4 linked regions of the Homo sapiens genome follow. The protein of the gene in region 3 purifies or fractionates together with the protein of the main gene of each other region. This does not show direct contact. Each region holds a gene or a part of one and is shown on either strand. Other genes may lie near its edges.

What was found. Proteins that work in one complex are often made in the same cells at the same time.
Region 1: the proteins of P2RX1 (region 3) and PI4K2A purify together in Homo sapiens (affinity purification with mass spectrometry; one large-scale study listed by BioGRID and IntAct). This does not show direct contact.
Region 2: the proteins of P2RX1 (region 3) and ATP1A3 purify together in Homo sapiens (affinity purification with mass spectrometry; one large-scale study listed by BioGRID and IntAct). This does not show direct contact.
Region 4: the proteins of P2RX1 (region 3) and ATP2C1 purify together in Homo sapiens (affinity purification with mass spectrometry; one large-scale study listed by BioGRID and IntAct). This does not show direct contact.

Annotation. Positions count from the first base shown.
Region 1 is NC_000010.11:97,654,171-97,657,670, forward strand, and holds part of PI4K2A (phosphatidylinositol 4-kinase type 2-alpha), read left to right. Parts: intron 1-2,114; coding exon 2,115-2,246; intron 2,247-2,650; coding exon 2,651-2,804; intron 2,805-3,500. UniProt on the Homo sapiens protein: Membrane-bound phosphatidylinositol-4 kinase (PI4-kinase) that catalyzes the phosphorylation of phosphatidylinositol (PI) to phosphatidylinositol 4-phosphate (PI4P), a lipid that plays important roles in endocytosis, Golgi function, protein sorting and membrane trafficking and is required for prolonged survival of neurons.
Region 2 is NC_000019.10:41,977,231-41,980,730, reverse strand, and holds part of ATP1A3 (sodium/potassium-transporting ATPase subunit alpha-3), read left to right. Parts: intron 1-1,932; coding exon 1,933-2,125; intron 2,126-2,404; coding exon 2,405-2,580; intron 2,581-2,658; coding exon 2,659-2,795; intron 2,796-3,500. UniProt on the Homo sapiens protein: This is the catalytic component of the active enzyme, which catalyzes the hydrolysis of ATP coupled with the exchange of sodium and potassium ions across the plasma membrane.
Region 3 is NC_000017.11:3,913,666-3,917,963, reverse strand, and holds the start of P2RX1 (P2X purinoceptor 1), read left to right. Parts: upstream 1-1,498; 5' UTR 1,499-1,738; coding exon 1,739-1,875; exon of another isoform or gene 1,876-2,405; coding exon of another isoform or gene 2,406-2,578; intron 2,579-4,298.
Region 4 is NC_000003.12:130,900,584-130,904,083, reverse strand, and holds part of ATP2C1 (calcium-transporting ATPase type 2C member 1), read right to left. Parts: intron 1-3,500. UniProt on the Homo sapiens protein: ATP-driven pump that supplies the Golgi apparatus with Ca(2+) and Mn(2+) ions, both essential cofactors for processing and trafficking of newly synthesized proteins in the secretory pathway.

The DNA of each region.
Region 1 (3,500 bases), on a different chromosome or scaffold from region 3:
TATGATAGTTTCATTAGTCATGGGGAAAAAGTGGTTTGTTAGGAAGAATGATAGAAAATAAATATGATGGGGGCAAAAGGGGATTTATGGCTTGAGAGAGCCAGGAGTTTCACTGTGGACACTGGCAAGGTAGCCTTAGGAAAGCTCTTTTTCCTTCATTCCTATGCCTGAGTTTTCTGATTTGTAAGGCAGGGAGTGCCTACTACAGTACCATGCACATCCATTTTAGGTAGTCTATTAATACTAGATGGTAGCATGGAGCGATAGATGAGAGGCAGTTATTTTGCCTCTCAGGTTCATGGGAAAAAAAATAGTTATTTGTAATAAATTTTACAAGGCTTAGGAAAATACCTTTCTTATAAGTTTGATTTTAGGTATTTATATGCTAAAACTCACTTGTTGCTGTCTCTGAAAGAAGCTTGTAACTCATTCTTCATTCACTTAATAAATATTTAATGAGCATATGCCAGCTACTGTGTTAGGTGCTGTGGATGCTAATATAAATAAGATGTTCTCCGCTTCCTCAAATCTCATTCATTTTAAAGGAGGAGTTAGATATACAAATGGATAATTACAAGACAATGTGATAAGTGTGACAATAGATGCATATGTGGATTACAATTACGTCACTGCAATTTGACTTAAGTATAATATTGATGGCTCATAAAAATTTTTTTTAGAATAAGTAATGCATGCATCTAGTATAAAAATCAGAAGGCACATAGGGTAAACAGAGAAAAGTAATTCAGACTCCCTGCTACCCCTATCTCCTGGCCATTCAGTTTCCTTCCTCAGAGGCAGCCAGGATTACAGTGTATAGCCTATACATAAAAATAGCAGTTAATTAAAATGAAAACCAATTTTAATGTTTGTGTTTTGAATACGAATAATTTCACAAAGTAAAAAAATTCAAAAGGGCCCGGGCACAGTGGCTCATGCCTGTAATCCCAGCACTTTGGGAGGCCGAGGTAGGAGGATCACCTGAGGTCAGGAGATCAAGACCAGCCTGGCCAACATGGTGAAACCCTCTCTCTACTAAAAATACAAAAATTAGCCAGGAGTGGTGGCACACACCTGTAATCCCAGCTACTTGGGAGGCTGAGGCATGAGAATTGCTTGAATGCGGGACTTGGAGGTTGCAGTGAGCCGAGACTGTGCCACTGCACTCCAGCCTGGGCAACAGAGTGAGACTCTGTCTCAAAAAAAAAAAAAAAAAAAAATTTTTTTTCAAAAGGAAATGAAGGGGTACAGAGTAAATTGCAACTTGTTTGTCTCTGGAAAGAAGATGGGCATTTGGCCTAATCTAACCCAGGAGATGACAGTGTTAATCCTTGTACTTCATACTAGCTGCTGTAACAACCCTTAAATCTAAGTGGTTTAATACAATTGGATTGTATTTCTTTTTTATCATATTTTTTTTGGGACAGAGTCTCCCTCTGTCACCCAGGATAGAATGTGCAGTGGTGCGATCTTGGCTCACTGCAACCTCTGCCTCCAAGGTTCAAGCCATCCTCCCACCTCAGCCTCCGAAGTATCTAGGATTACAGACGTGCACCACCATGCCTGGCTAATTTTTGTATTTTTAGTAGAGACGGGGTTTAACCATGTTGGCCAGGCTGGTCTCGAACTCCTGACCTCAAGTGATCTGCCCACCTCGGCCTCTCAGAGTGCTGGGTTTACAGGTGTGAGCCACCACGCCTGGCCAGGAGTGTATTTCTTGATTACATCTCAGACTCATGCCAGATAGGCAGCTCTCCTAGATACCACATCACTCATGTAGTTACAAGGTATCCGAGGTTCTTCCATGGTGTGGCTCTGCTATTTCCCAGCCCTTCTTTCCTAGCTGCACAGACTGGAGAATGTGAATTAAGGATTGTGGGAGATTTTAGTTGCCAGCAGTGGAAGTGTTGTACATACATAATTTTGTCATTATTTCATTGGCCCAAACTAGTTATCTTCCCTCTCCTAGTTGCTGGGAAGGCTGAGAAATGTATTCTTTCTGTGCCCTGGAAGAGGAATAGGATTTGTGAACATCAAGCTATTTATTCTCTGCCATAGTCTTCTGGTTCCTTAAACTTGACTCTAACCTTAGTATCTCTTCTCTTTCACTGTAGGTAGTATACCTGGCCAGTGAGACCTTCAACTATAGTGCCATTGACCGAGTGAAGTCCAGGGGCAAGCGGCTTGCACTAGAGAAAGTGCCAAAAGTTGGACAGCGGTTTAACCGCATCGGGCTACCACCAAAGGTATAGACGCACCTCTGGCTTATCAAGGGTCATGATTTATAGTGACATAGTCATCCAAGTGGTGAAGCAAGGTGCCTACAACTCAAATATGGGCACGTGAATAACCTGCCCTGAGGATCCTGTCTTCCTTATTTCTGTCAAGTGGCTAAGGTTTGAAAAGTTGAGACCTAACTTTTCACTTTACTCCTCTGGTTCATTTGGATAGGTTCTTTAATTTGGATGGATGATCACTGTTACATCTCTTTTCTCCTGTACTTGCAAGAAATGAGGAAGTAAAGATCTTGAAAAGTTTTCCTTCTCTGATACAAACTCCATAGGGCCTTAATGGGTATCTGGCATATACTCCAAAGGTCTTTGGATTTGGGCAGTAGGGAAAAACCTTTGTTCCTTCCTCTTGGTTCCAGGTTGGTTCATTCCAGCTCTTTGTTGAAGGCTACAAAGATGCAGACTATTGGCTGCGGCGTTTTGAAGCAGAACCTCTTCCTGAGAACACTAACCGGCAACTACTGCTCCAGTTTGAGCGGTTGGTGGTGCTGGATTACATCATCCGCAACACTGGTGAGCAGCTGCAGGTGGTCCCATGCCCTGTGCCAGACTGTGTTGAGGCATGGGGAGGCCTGGAGGCTTGCAGGGCTTGGGAGTCAGAGTACCTTGTCCAGACACATCATGTGTAGTTTTCAGAAGTGGTGAGGCCTGGAGTTAGTATTTGCATTTTATCTTACACTCTTTCCTGGTTCCAGACAGAAGACACTTAACTCTTCCAAAGCACTGTGAAGAGTACTCTTATCCTTGATCCCTAGTCATTCTTGTAGCCTCAAGACCTGTAACAGGACAGTTTTGTCTTCCTCTGACTTCTTGAGGTAGATGTTTAGATCATTGATATTTAAAAAAAATTTTTTTTCAGTGCAATTTAAATTCAACTAACCTGGTAAAATGTACATGTATTGAGGACAAAAGTCTTTAAATTCAGGCTGGATGTGGTGGCTCATGCGTGTACTCCCAGCACTTTGGGAGGCCAAGGTGGACAGATCATTTGAGGCCGGGAGTTCCAGACCAGCCTGGACAACATGGTGAAACCCTGTCTCTACTAAAAATACAAAAATTAGCCGGGTGTGGTGGCGGGCACCTGTAGTCCCAGCTATTCAGGAGGCTGAGGTGGGAGAATCGCTTGAACCTGGGAGGCGGAGGTTGCAGTGAGTCAGAATTGCACCACTGCACTCTAACCTGGGTGACAGAGCAAGACTCTGTTTCCAA
Region 2 (3,500 bases), on a different chromosome or scaffold from region 3:
ACCGTGTTAGCCAGGATGGTCTCGATCTCCTGACCTCGTGATCTGCCCGCCTCAGCCTCCCAAAGTGCTGGGATTACAGGCATGAGCCACCGCGCCCGGCCTCAGTAAACTTTTTTTTGAGATGGAGTCTTGCTCTGTCGCCCAGGCTAAAAGGCAGTGGTGTGATCTTGGCTCACTGCAACCTCTGTCTCTGGGTTCAAGTGATTCTCATATCTCAGCCTCCCGAGTAGCTGGAATTAGAGGCGTGCACCACCACACCCAGCTAGTTTTTGTATTTTTAGTATTGATGGGGTTTCATCATGTTGGCCAGGCTGGTCTTGAACTCCTGACCTCAAGTGATCCACCCACCTCGGCCTCCCAAAGTGCTGGGATTACAGGCATAAGCCATCATGCCCGGCCCATTCAGTATACATTTTTTGACCAGCCACCACATGTTAGGCCCTGTTTTGGGTGCTGGGTGTACACACAGTAGTGAGTGACATGGTGAAGTCACCCCTCTCTGAGACTTACGCTCTGGTTCTAGAAGACAGACAATAACAAAGGCATGAGGAGGTAATCGTAGTGGTTGTGGTGCTGAGGGAGGGAACCCTGCAGGTGTCTGGGGGAAGAGCGCTCCGGTAGCAGGCACAGCCTGTGCAAAGGCCCAGAGGCGGGAGTGTGCTGACGCATCTGAACACCAGCCAGCCAGCCAGTGCAGAGGGGCTGGGAGCCAGGGAGCGTGGTGGGGGTGGTGGGTGCTGGCCAGATCCTGTCAGGCCCCACGGGCATGGAGAGGACTTGGCTGTGACTCTGAGGAGCACACAAGCCTCCAGGGGGCTCTCAGCCAAAGAGAGACAGGAGTTGACTCAGAGCTTTTAAAATAACTTTATTAAGATATAATTAACATACCATAGCTCGTCCCTCTAAGTGTATAATTTAATAGTTTTAGTATATTCGCAGATATAGGCAGCCATCCACATAGTCAATTTTAGAGCATTTTCATCACCTCCAAAAAGAAACCCCACATCTCTCAGCTGTCACCCGCCCCCTCCTCCCCGACACTCCCAGCCCTAAGCAACCACTAACCTACTTTCTGTCCGTATGGTTTTGCCTATTCTGGACATTTCATAAAAATGGAAGCATACAGCTGGGTGTGGTGGCTCACGCCTGTAATCCCAGCACTTTGGGAGACCGAGGCAGGAGGATCGCTTGAACTCAGGAGATGGAGACCAGCGTGGGCAACATAGGGAGAGCATGTCTCTATAAAAAATTAGCCAGGCATGGTGGTGTGGACCTGTGGTCCCAGCTACGTGGGAGACCGAAGCGGGAGGATCGCATGAGCCTGGGAGATCAAGGCTGCAGTGAGCTGTGATCTCGCCACTGTTCTCCAGCCTGGGTGACAGAGTGAGACCCTGTCTTAAAAAAAAAAAACAGGGTGGGAGGAGGGGAGCACAGACGTGGTGGCTTATGCCTGTTATCCCAGCACTTTGAGAGGCCGATGAGGGCAGATCACTTGAGGCCAGGAGTTCAAGACCAGCCTGGCCAACATGGCAAAATCCCGTCTCTACTAAAAATACAAAAGTTAGCTGGGTGTGGTGGTGGTGCCTGTAATCCCAAGCTACTCCGGAGGCTGAGGCAGGAGAATTGCTTGAACCCAGGAGGTGGAGGTTGCAGTGAGCTGAGATCGTGCCACTGCACTCCAGCCTGGGCAACAGAGCGAGACTCTGTCTCAAAAAAAAAAGAAAAAAGAAAAAAAGAAAAAGAAAAAGAAATATATATCCATGACATAGACAGAGCGGACAGGAATGAGCAGAGGTCTCTGTGAGAGAGTGTGGGGGAGCCCTGGTGTGGGCCTATCCTGGCACCCGTGGCTCTGGACAGGGGACAGGATGGGGCAGGGAGCTTCCTGGTGTCTGCGTGGCTCAGGCACGCCACCCTCTGATCGGTCCCCAGCTCTCCATCCATGAGACCGAGGACCCCAACGACAACCGATACCTGCTGGTGATGAAGGGTGCCCCCGAGCGCATCCTGGACCGCTGCTCCACCATCCTGCTACAGGGCAAGGAGCAGCCTCTGGACGAGGAAATGAAGGAGGCCTTCCAGAATGCCTACCTTGAGCTCGGTGGCCTGGGCGAGCGCGTGCTTGGTGCGAGGCTGCCGGGCGGGCTCTGGGGTCCCTGGAGGGCAAGGAGGGTTGTGATGCTGCCCAAAGCCTGTCTCAGCCCAGGGCCTCCCAGAATATACTGTAAATGAATGAATGAATGAATGAATGGATGGATGAGAGGGGAAGGTATCCTAGGAAATGAATGCTGACTGGCCGTCTTGCTGATGGGGAGATGGAATGCGGGCGATGCAGACATCTAGGGGCATGGGGCGGAGGTTCCGAGGCTGGGACCCTCACACCCCAACCCTTCCCTGCCACTAGGTTTCTGCCATTATTACCTGCCCGAGGAGCAGTTCCCCAAGGGCTTTGCCTTCGACTGTGATGACGTGAACTTCACCACGGACAACCTCTGCTTTGTGGGCCTCATGTCCATGATCGACCCACCCCGGGCAGCCGTCCCTGACGCGGTGGGCAAGTGTCGCAGCGCAGGCATCAAGGTGTGGCTTGGGGTGGCTGGGGGAGGCAAAGCCAGGCGTGGGGCGGGAGAGGCCATCCCTAAAAAACAATGCCTGCAGGTCATCATGGTCACCGGCGATCACCCCATCACGGCCAAGGCCATTGCCAAGGGTGTGGGCATCATCTCTGAGGGCAACGAGACTGTGGAGGACATCGCCGCCCGGCTCAACATTCCCGTCAGCCAGGTTAACCCCCGGTGAGCCACCCATCCCAGCCAGGGCCCTGGACATCCCTCTAGGGTGTTGACACAGGGGGACCGCTTCCCCCCAACCTCCCTCTGCACTGCCTGTCCCATTCTTTCTGGGACTCCTCCATGGACCAGGCCCTGGGTCTGGCCCTCCCTCCGGTGTGGGGACATTGCAGCCACAGAGGTAGCCAGGCATAGGTTTGCATCCCAGCCTTTATTTTATTTTATTTATTTATTTATGTTTTTGAGATGGAGTCTTGCTCTGTCGCCCAGGCTGGAGTGCAGTGGGGCAACCTCAGCTCACTGCAGCCTCCGCCTCCCGGGTTCAAGCAATTATCTGCCTCAGCCTCTTGAGTAGCTGGGATTACAGGGGCCCTCCACCATGCCCCGCTAATTTTTTTTTTTTTTTTTTGTATTTTTAGTAGAGACGGGGGTTTCACTATGTTGGCCAGGCTGGTCTCGAACTCCTGACCTCAGGTGGTCCACCTGCCTTGGCCTCCCAAAGTGCTGGGATTACAGGCGTGAGCCACTGCGCCCGGCCTGCATTCCAGCTTATACCGCTCACAAGCTGTGTGACATTGGGCAAGTCCTTTAGCATCCATGAACTTCAGTTTGCCCATCTCTAAAATGGGCTACTAATAATTCCTATCTCAGAGGATTCAGTAGAATCCAGTACTTCTGTGTCTGTCTCTCTTTTTTCCTGTCTGTCTGTCA
Region 3 (4,298 bases):
GAGAAGGGTGGCTGAAAAGGGACCCAGAATGGCCCACACAGTCTCAGCACCCACCCCACTCCCCATCACAAGCAGCTGTGTCCTGGTGCCTCCCATTCCAATGGCCACAGGGGCAGCTGGGAAAGGAACTGTCTAGGGTCAAGGTCAGGCCAAGGGGAGACGTGGCCACCACAGTTCTGGCTCCCAGCATCTCTGGATTTTCTTTAGAAAAGCCCATGACACCCACTGGATTAGCAGAAACTCCGCGAGGGGTGAGGCTGATCTACTTGACAAGGAGAGACTGACCTGGGTGCTGGAAGGGGCCATGGGCAGCCCTCTGTGGGTGACCCCCATTCAGACAGGCTGCCGGGATTCCCAGCCCCAGGGCCTGGCTCCCTGCCCAGAGCACTTCCAGCTCATGGCTCGCCAGCAAGAAGACTCCTTATCAGCCTTAAGGGTGGGGCGGCTCCGACGACAGGGCCGTGGGGGCTCGCCAGGGAGGCCCCTGCTTCCAGCTTGAACCTCCAGTACCACCCCGGGTGAGCTTGGGCAACTCATTTCTCTTCTCTGAGCTTGGTTTTCTCATCTTCAAAACGAGGGGTGGGGCTGGGGAGGCCTCCAGCTCTGAGGAGCCAACGTGGGACCCTCTGCCCACCCCAAACCCCTGTGTTCAGGGCCCGAGCTGGGGGTGGGAAGGGAAGGCAGGGACTGCAGAGGTGCTGTGCCCCAGACTCAATGGTGGCCTCCAGTTCTCTGTCCCGTGTTGCTGAGACCCATCCCCTGTGAGCCTCGACCTAGAAGGAACAGCCCTTATTACCCCAATTTACAGATGAGGAAGCAGGCTCGGAGAGGCAAGGTGACACCCAGCCCCCACAGCCAAGAAGTGGCAGAGCCAGGGATCTCCGAGGTCAGGCTCTCTCGGCTGGTCTTGGGCCCCCCATGGCACTGGTGACGGATGTGGTGCTGGTCTTGGCTGGGCACCTGCCACCTCTCTCCCTCTGATGGTGGCCCCGGCAGGACAGACAGTGGGAGAGGAGAGCTGGGGGATAGAGATGCCAGCTCAGCACCGAGGTTGACCGGGCACAGGCCAGGCTGGAACTCAGAGCCTCCTTCCTCTCTGCCTTGCTCGCTGCAGACCCCCAGGGACGAAGCAGCCAACCCTGGTGGGGGAGGGTGGAGGGTGGTGGATGGGGCTGGGGATGGAGGTCTCATTTTGGCAGTGGAGGGGAGTCGCGGGGAGTCCCCTAATCTGAGGAGACTCCAGCTTCCCCCAGGCCCTGGCCAGAGCTCCATCTTGCCAGGTTTTGGGGGGAGGATAACTTGAGGAGTCGACTGAGAGCTTTATCTTTGCCCCTGTGACGGGTGGCCTGTGGTTTCCTGCCAACAACTCCTGTTTCCGGAGGCCCAACAAGGCCCACGCAGAGCCAGGAGGGGCAGTGGGGCTGGGCCTGGGTGGCCCCACCAGCCCCGCCCCATCTATCTTTGGGAATTTATTTGTCCATGGGCGAGGCTGGCCTGCAGTCTGTTGCCTTCCAGGGGCCAAGAGCTGCTCTGATCACCCAGGGATTCTCTCTCCAACCCAAGTGCCTCCAGCTGACCTCTGGCTCCTGTCCTCTGGCTCCACCTGCACCGCCCTGCTCTTCCTAAGGGGCCAGGAAGCCCCCAGAAGCTCTACCATCGACGTGGGTGGTGGCACCCGGCTCACCCTGAGAGCAGAGGCCGTGCAGGGGGCTCAGTTCTGAGCCCCAGCCGGCCCACCATGGCACGGCGGTTCCAGGAGGAGCTGGCCGCCTTCCTCTTCGAGTATGACACCCCCCGCATGGTGCTGGTGCGTAATAAGAAGGTGGGCGTTATCTTCCGACTGATCCAGCTGGTGGTCCTGGTCTACGTCATCGGGTGAGTCCGGGCGCCTCCCGCTGCCTGCACCAGCCCCTACCCCGGGCCTGTCCTCCAGACTCTGACATCCCTTGCGTGACACCAGCGAGCCCCTCTTCCTCTCCATCCAGGGGAAGGCCTTCCTGGCAAGCCACTGTGCGAGAATAGAAAATCCTGCCAACTCGCTGTTGAGATGGGGACGAGGCCGGAGGGGAAGCCCTGCCCGGGGGCCTTCGGTGAACAGGAGGCAGAGTCTCTGGGTTCTGAGGAGCCGGCTCAGTGTTATGGTTCCTTTGAGTGGTTAGTGGTGTTCAGGGCCAGGGCACCACCAACCACAGCCACTGAGTCCTCGACCTCTGACCGCCTGCCAAACCAGGCCGCCACTGACACACAGAGGCCATACCCCACACCCGTCACCCCATATGACAAGTTAGAGAGAGACAGACTCTGCTGCCAGCTTCCCTGCCTGAGCAAGGGACATCCAGGGACGTTTGAGGCCCCCGGAGCAGAGAAACTCTCACATTCTGAATACCTGGTGCCTTCATGTTGGCATGTCAGGCGGAGGACAGAGATTGGTTCTGGTCCCAGGGATGATAGTTCCTTTCTGGGCATCTCCGGACCTGTCCCACCGGGCTGGGAGTGCAGAATCAGAGGCAGCGTGGGACGCTCCTGCAGTATGGTTGTCTCGGGAGCCAAGACAGGCCTGGCAGAGGCTGGCACACTTGTGAGTGTGCATATGGAGCTCTGTGCCTATATGTGTCTGGGTGTGTGTCCCTGGTGCTGAGTGCCCACATGTGGGTACCCTTATGTGTACATATGGCTGTGCCCATGTCTGCCCTGTGGCCAAGTGTCTGGGTGGCCAGTGTGTGTCCCCTGTGTGTGGTGCATCTTGTCCACTCACAGTGACTCTGCAGAGGTCTCCTGGAGGCCCCAGGGCCACTGGAGGGGGCTCAGCCCCTGCTGGGGTCCTAGGGGTGCCCAGTAGCCCCTGCCTGCCTTTGCCGTGTGATTCTGAGAGCTCTACCCTCCCCATTTTTACCATGGTTCCGAACCAGAACTGCTAAATGGAGTCCAGGGCAGGCTGACCCAGGGCCCAAACAAGGACCATGAAGTCCTAGTCCCCCGGAAACTTCTGGCGTCCAAAAGAGCCCTCCTTCTGTCCCACCAGTCCCCAGAACCTCAGAGCCGGCCAGGTGGACCCAGGGCCAGACCCCAGCCTTGACCTCTCCTCTCTCTTGTTCAGAAACTAATTTGACATCTGTGATGTCTGAGCTTGTGAGGGAAACTGAGGCCCAGAGAGGGGCAGTGGGGTTTCCAGGTCCACAGCAAGTCAGCAGCAAACCCAGGGTTGCAGCTGAGCCCTCCTGACCCCCAGGCCTCTGCTGTGCCTTCTCCTTCCTCACCATCACAAGGGGCTGTGGATCCTTTCTACTGGGCACTGATGGTGGGATGCCAGGTACAGGACGGGCCGGAAGTCCACCCTTAGTATCACTCCTGACCGTCCCTGGGAGAGGCTGTCTGCGCAGGCCCAGCCTACCCTTGCTGGAAGAGGCTGGGGGAAGGCTGTCCTCTCTCTGCCCCTGCGGCTCCCTAGTTCTGCTTTCAGATCTGCAGGTGTGAGGGGCACCAGGTCCCTCCTCTGTGTGTGTCACAGGCTGTCAGCGTTGGAGGGACCCACCCATTCCCAGCCGTAGCCTATGCCCCAAGCTGCTGCCCAGCCGGGAACCTATACCTCCAGTGACGGGGACCTCACTACCGTCCTCCTGCCTGTCTTCCCTCCCAAGACTGTCTAATCAGTTTCCAAATGGATGTGGCCCTTCTCGGTGTCTGTGGGGCTCAGGACCACAGGGATTAGCCAGGATCTCACAGCTTAGTAAGAGACTAACCAGGATTTGAACCCACCTGCATGGCTCCAAAGTCAGCCTTGATATTCTGGAAAGGCAACCTCCTCAGAGAGAGGGCACTGGCCTGCCCACGTCACACAGCAGAGGGTGGAAGGAAGGCAGAGTCCGTCATCACCAGCAACCCCCAGGGCTGCAGGCCCAGGCTTCCAGCTCCTGCTCAGGCTGTGGTGCCTGCTGTCTCTTGCGCCCTCGTCTGGCCACTGCTCAGTACTGCACTGACCTCTCAGCCAGGAACCCACAGCGGCAAACCGAACCCCTGACCCAGCCTGGACTTGGTCTTGGCATCTCCGGACTCAGCTTCCTAACCGGCCCGTGGGGCACGGGTTGCAGGGGACCACCCCCCCCAAGAGTGCACTCAGCTCAGCACTTTGCTGTTTCCTGAGGAGGGCTTTGCTTTCATGTCTGATCCTGTGGGCACTGCCAGGGGATGGAAAGGAGCATGAGAGAAGAGCCAGGCCCCCGTGTCCCAGACACAGGGCAAAGCCTGGGTGGGGGATGGGTGGACACAGAGACAGACCTGGACAGAGGGACAAACGCCAG
Region 4 (3,500 bases), on a different chromosome or scaffold from region 3:
GATTTTAGAAAAACCTCTCAAAGTAAAGTAAATCTTTCTACCATAATTGAATTTGCATCCAACAGTTAACTACATCTGAATTATACTGCCACTCTGGGAAGAATTTGGCATTTTTTGATCATTAAATTAAAAAGTGGGCATAATACTCCATCTACTGATACATCTGTTTGTATAAATTATTCTAGGTTTGAAAGAAATTTGGTACAAGGATGGAGGAAAGGGGTATCATACCATCTACATATTTTTTAAACCCGTCCATTTTGTTGCCATCCTATATTAAGCATGCAACCAGTGTTTTTTAAAGCCTTCAGTGAGCAACAATTATTTTACTAGCAATACAGAAGATGGAAAGGAAAGGAAAGGAAAGGAAAGGAAAGGAAAGGGGAAAGGGGAAATGGGAAAGGGGAAAGAGGAAAAAGGAAAGGAAAGGGGGGAGGAAGGGGCAGAAGGAAAGAAGGGAGGGAGGGAGAGAAAGAAAGAAAGTTTTTTTAGATTCCTTTATACCTTCTCCTAATACCTCCCCCACCATGACCAATGACATTCATTTCATAAAGCAGCTAACTGGTGAACCTAATTTTACAGGCTATGACAAACCAAACCCTTATGAAAAGACATTATGGTGGCATTCTTAACACCCTGTGCTTCCAGACCTAAATAACTACAGGTACAATGGGGAGCCACGTAAGCCTTTAAAAGCAGTTGACAGTCAAATACAATTTAATATCATTTAAAGCTACCAACTTTGAATCCTATAGGGTTAAGTTAACCGATAATTTATTTGCTGTCACAAAATGTACTCTGTTATTATTTTCCATGTTTAAGTGGTGTTCCTCAAAAGCTAATTTTTCTAACCAACTAATTAATGAATGGAATATTTAAATAATCTTAGTTTAAGATGAAAAACAGGCAGGTTATTTCTAAATTCCACCTGCAATTAATAAAACGTACATTAGTAAGTCCAATACATAGTTTACCGAACTCAAGGACTTTTACCTACAGTAATTCCATTCTATAGATGGAGAAAATAATGTATAGTAAGAGTAAACCGGTTTTTTTCCTAAAAGGAAAGAAATAGCAGCAAAGAATTCCAGTGACTCCCTAAAAATGAGAATGCCACACAACTATGTACATGTAAGGAGACTTTAAACACTGAGGCTATGACTGGAATAGATCACTAAGGGATTGGTATTAGAGATGAAAATATCGGTGGTCCTGTCCCTAACACCACTGAAACATTCAACACCTTACAAAATAAAGGGAATATTCAACACCTTACAAAATAAAGTAAAAAGACACCCGACAAGCAAAAGAAAGCCACCTAATGAAGACCCTAAAAAGGAAATCTAAGGAAGAGTTCTGACTTCGGGGGGGGTCTAGTTAGAATAAATGGATAAAAAGGAAAAAGGCAATAGACATAGGAGGTCTAGCATTTTCCATGAGAAATAAAATTCAGTACATTTTGGTCTTGATTTCAAAGAATAGTAAAATTGCTTCCAAACAATAACAGTTCTGTGAGCAATAAATAATACATAAAATGTATTTACAGGCTAAAAAGTAAAATTTAAGGGCTTAACTTCATTGATCTACACTAAGGGTTTAACTTCATTGTCTACTGCTAGGTGAACACTAAATACTGAATCCTGAAATAGTACAAACCCAAACCAAAGTATAATCAAAATCATAATTTGATAAAACCATGAGAAAAGCATTAAGATTATAAAAGCTACTCTATGTTTCCTAGGCATCCCACTCACCTCTCAGAAAAAAAAAAAAAAAAAAAAAAAAACAAAAAAAAAAAACGTGAAGCCTTGAAATTAGCAGTTAAAAGACCAAAAGTAACTCCCCTAAATCTATTCATCAAGTAAGGTAAGGGAAATTAGGATTTGCTGAGAGGCTCTTTCATGCCAGGCACTTGTACACACCCTGCCTGGTCTAATTCTAACAAACCTGAAGTAGTCATAATCTCTTTACAAGTGAGGAAACCAAGGCTTAGAGGAGTCAACTTCCTTGCCGTTTGTTAGAACAGTGTTTCTCAATCTTGGCACCATTGACATCTGGGGCTAAAAAATTTTGAGGGTGGCGGGGGGAGGTAGAAGATGCTGTCTTACGGATTGTAGCATGCTTACCAGCATCCCTGGTCTCTACACACTGGATGCCAGTAGCATACTTTGAGTTGTGACAACCCAGCATTTCTCTAAACATTGCCAAATGTCCCCCGGGGGCAAAACAATCCTGAGATGAGAACCACTTAGAAGGAAGAAGCCAGCATTTTCATTCAATTGACAGTAGGTACGTCCCAGAGTCTGTTCAAGATGAATAAAGGACAAATTGAGGTCTCTGCCTTCAAGAGCTCACTTTGAATCCTGGTGCTTGATTTAACACCTCTCTCCATGCATAGCTATATGAGCCTCACATCATGACAGTCTGACCTATATATTCCCTTCAGCCAGCCCCTAAATCGGCTCACTCCTTCAACCACAATCAATGGCACCTTCACTGACCCAAATGACATCTTGCAGTCATGTCTGATTCAACTATTCCCTTAATTCTCTGTATCTAGTCACTGTCCAAGTCCTGCTGATTTTTCCTAGGAGTAAAATATCTCTGTCATCCATCCCTACCCTTCATTCCCATTACTCTAATATAGATACAAACCACACTCCCTTTATCTTCTAACAGATGAAATCAGGAGTAACTAATCTCTCTTGGCCCCTCATATGAATTAGGGGTACATATCAAGATATAATAACTGATCTACCAACTTTTAGGATAGAGGGCTGGCAGACTTCAGAGCAGTCCCCAATGACCACATCTTTCTCTGGGGTGGGGAGGGATGCTGGAATTTCTCATCTGATACTAGTTTCATAAGCCAAATATTAACTCTTAAGTAAACAGTAACCCTCACAAGCATTAAGAAAAGGACACAGCAGAAATTAGTTTGCATACCACTACAAAGTGGTTTGCATGCTATTTCTGGCATTTGTGCCATGAACTGCTTTTGCCTGCTTCAAAAGAAGGTAGAACTGACACTCAACAGAGCAAGTAAGGTACAACTCCCAAGCTTAATTAAGCCAACTAATATTTCCACCCCTGATGATGTAGAAACCTAGATGAAGGCAGGTAAAGCAAACATGCTGCTAGGGAAACACTAAAAATAGATGGCCAAACAAAATCTAGTGAAATGCCTGCATACAAAGAGAGATATAAATCTCATATATAACATATACAAATAAAATCACAGCATCAAAAGGCTAATTTATTTATACTACAAATGAAAAAGGCTCCGATTTAAGATGAGAGGAAATCCAGGACCTGGTTCAAAGTTGGATCTTGCCCTTAGGCAGAGAATAACAGAACGTTTATGTACTAATGTACTAATGCTCTATTCTTTTTAACTTCAGGACACCATAACCAAGATAAATTTCTGAAATTCACAACTTAACCAAAACTTTTAATTTTTACTTTGCGTGTTTAAATTTTCAAAAAAACACATTTACATA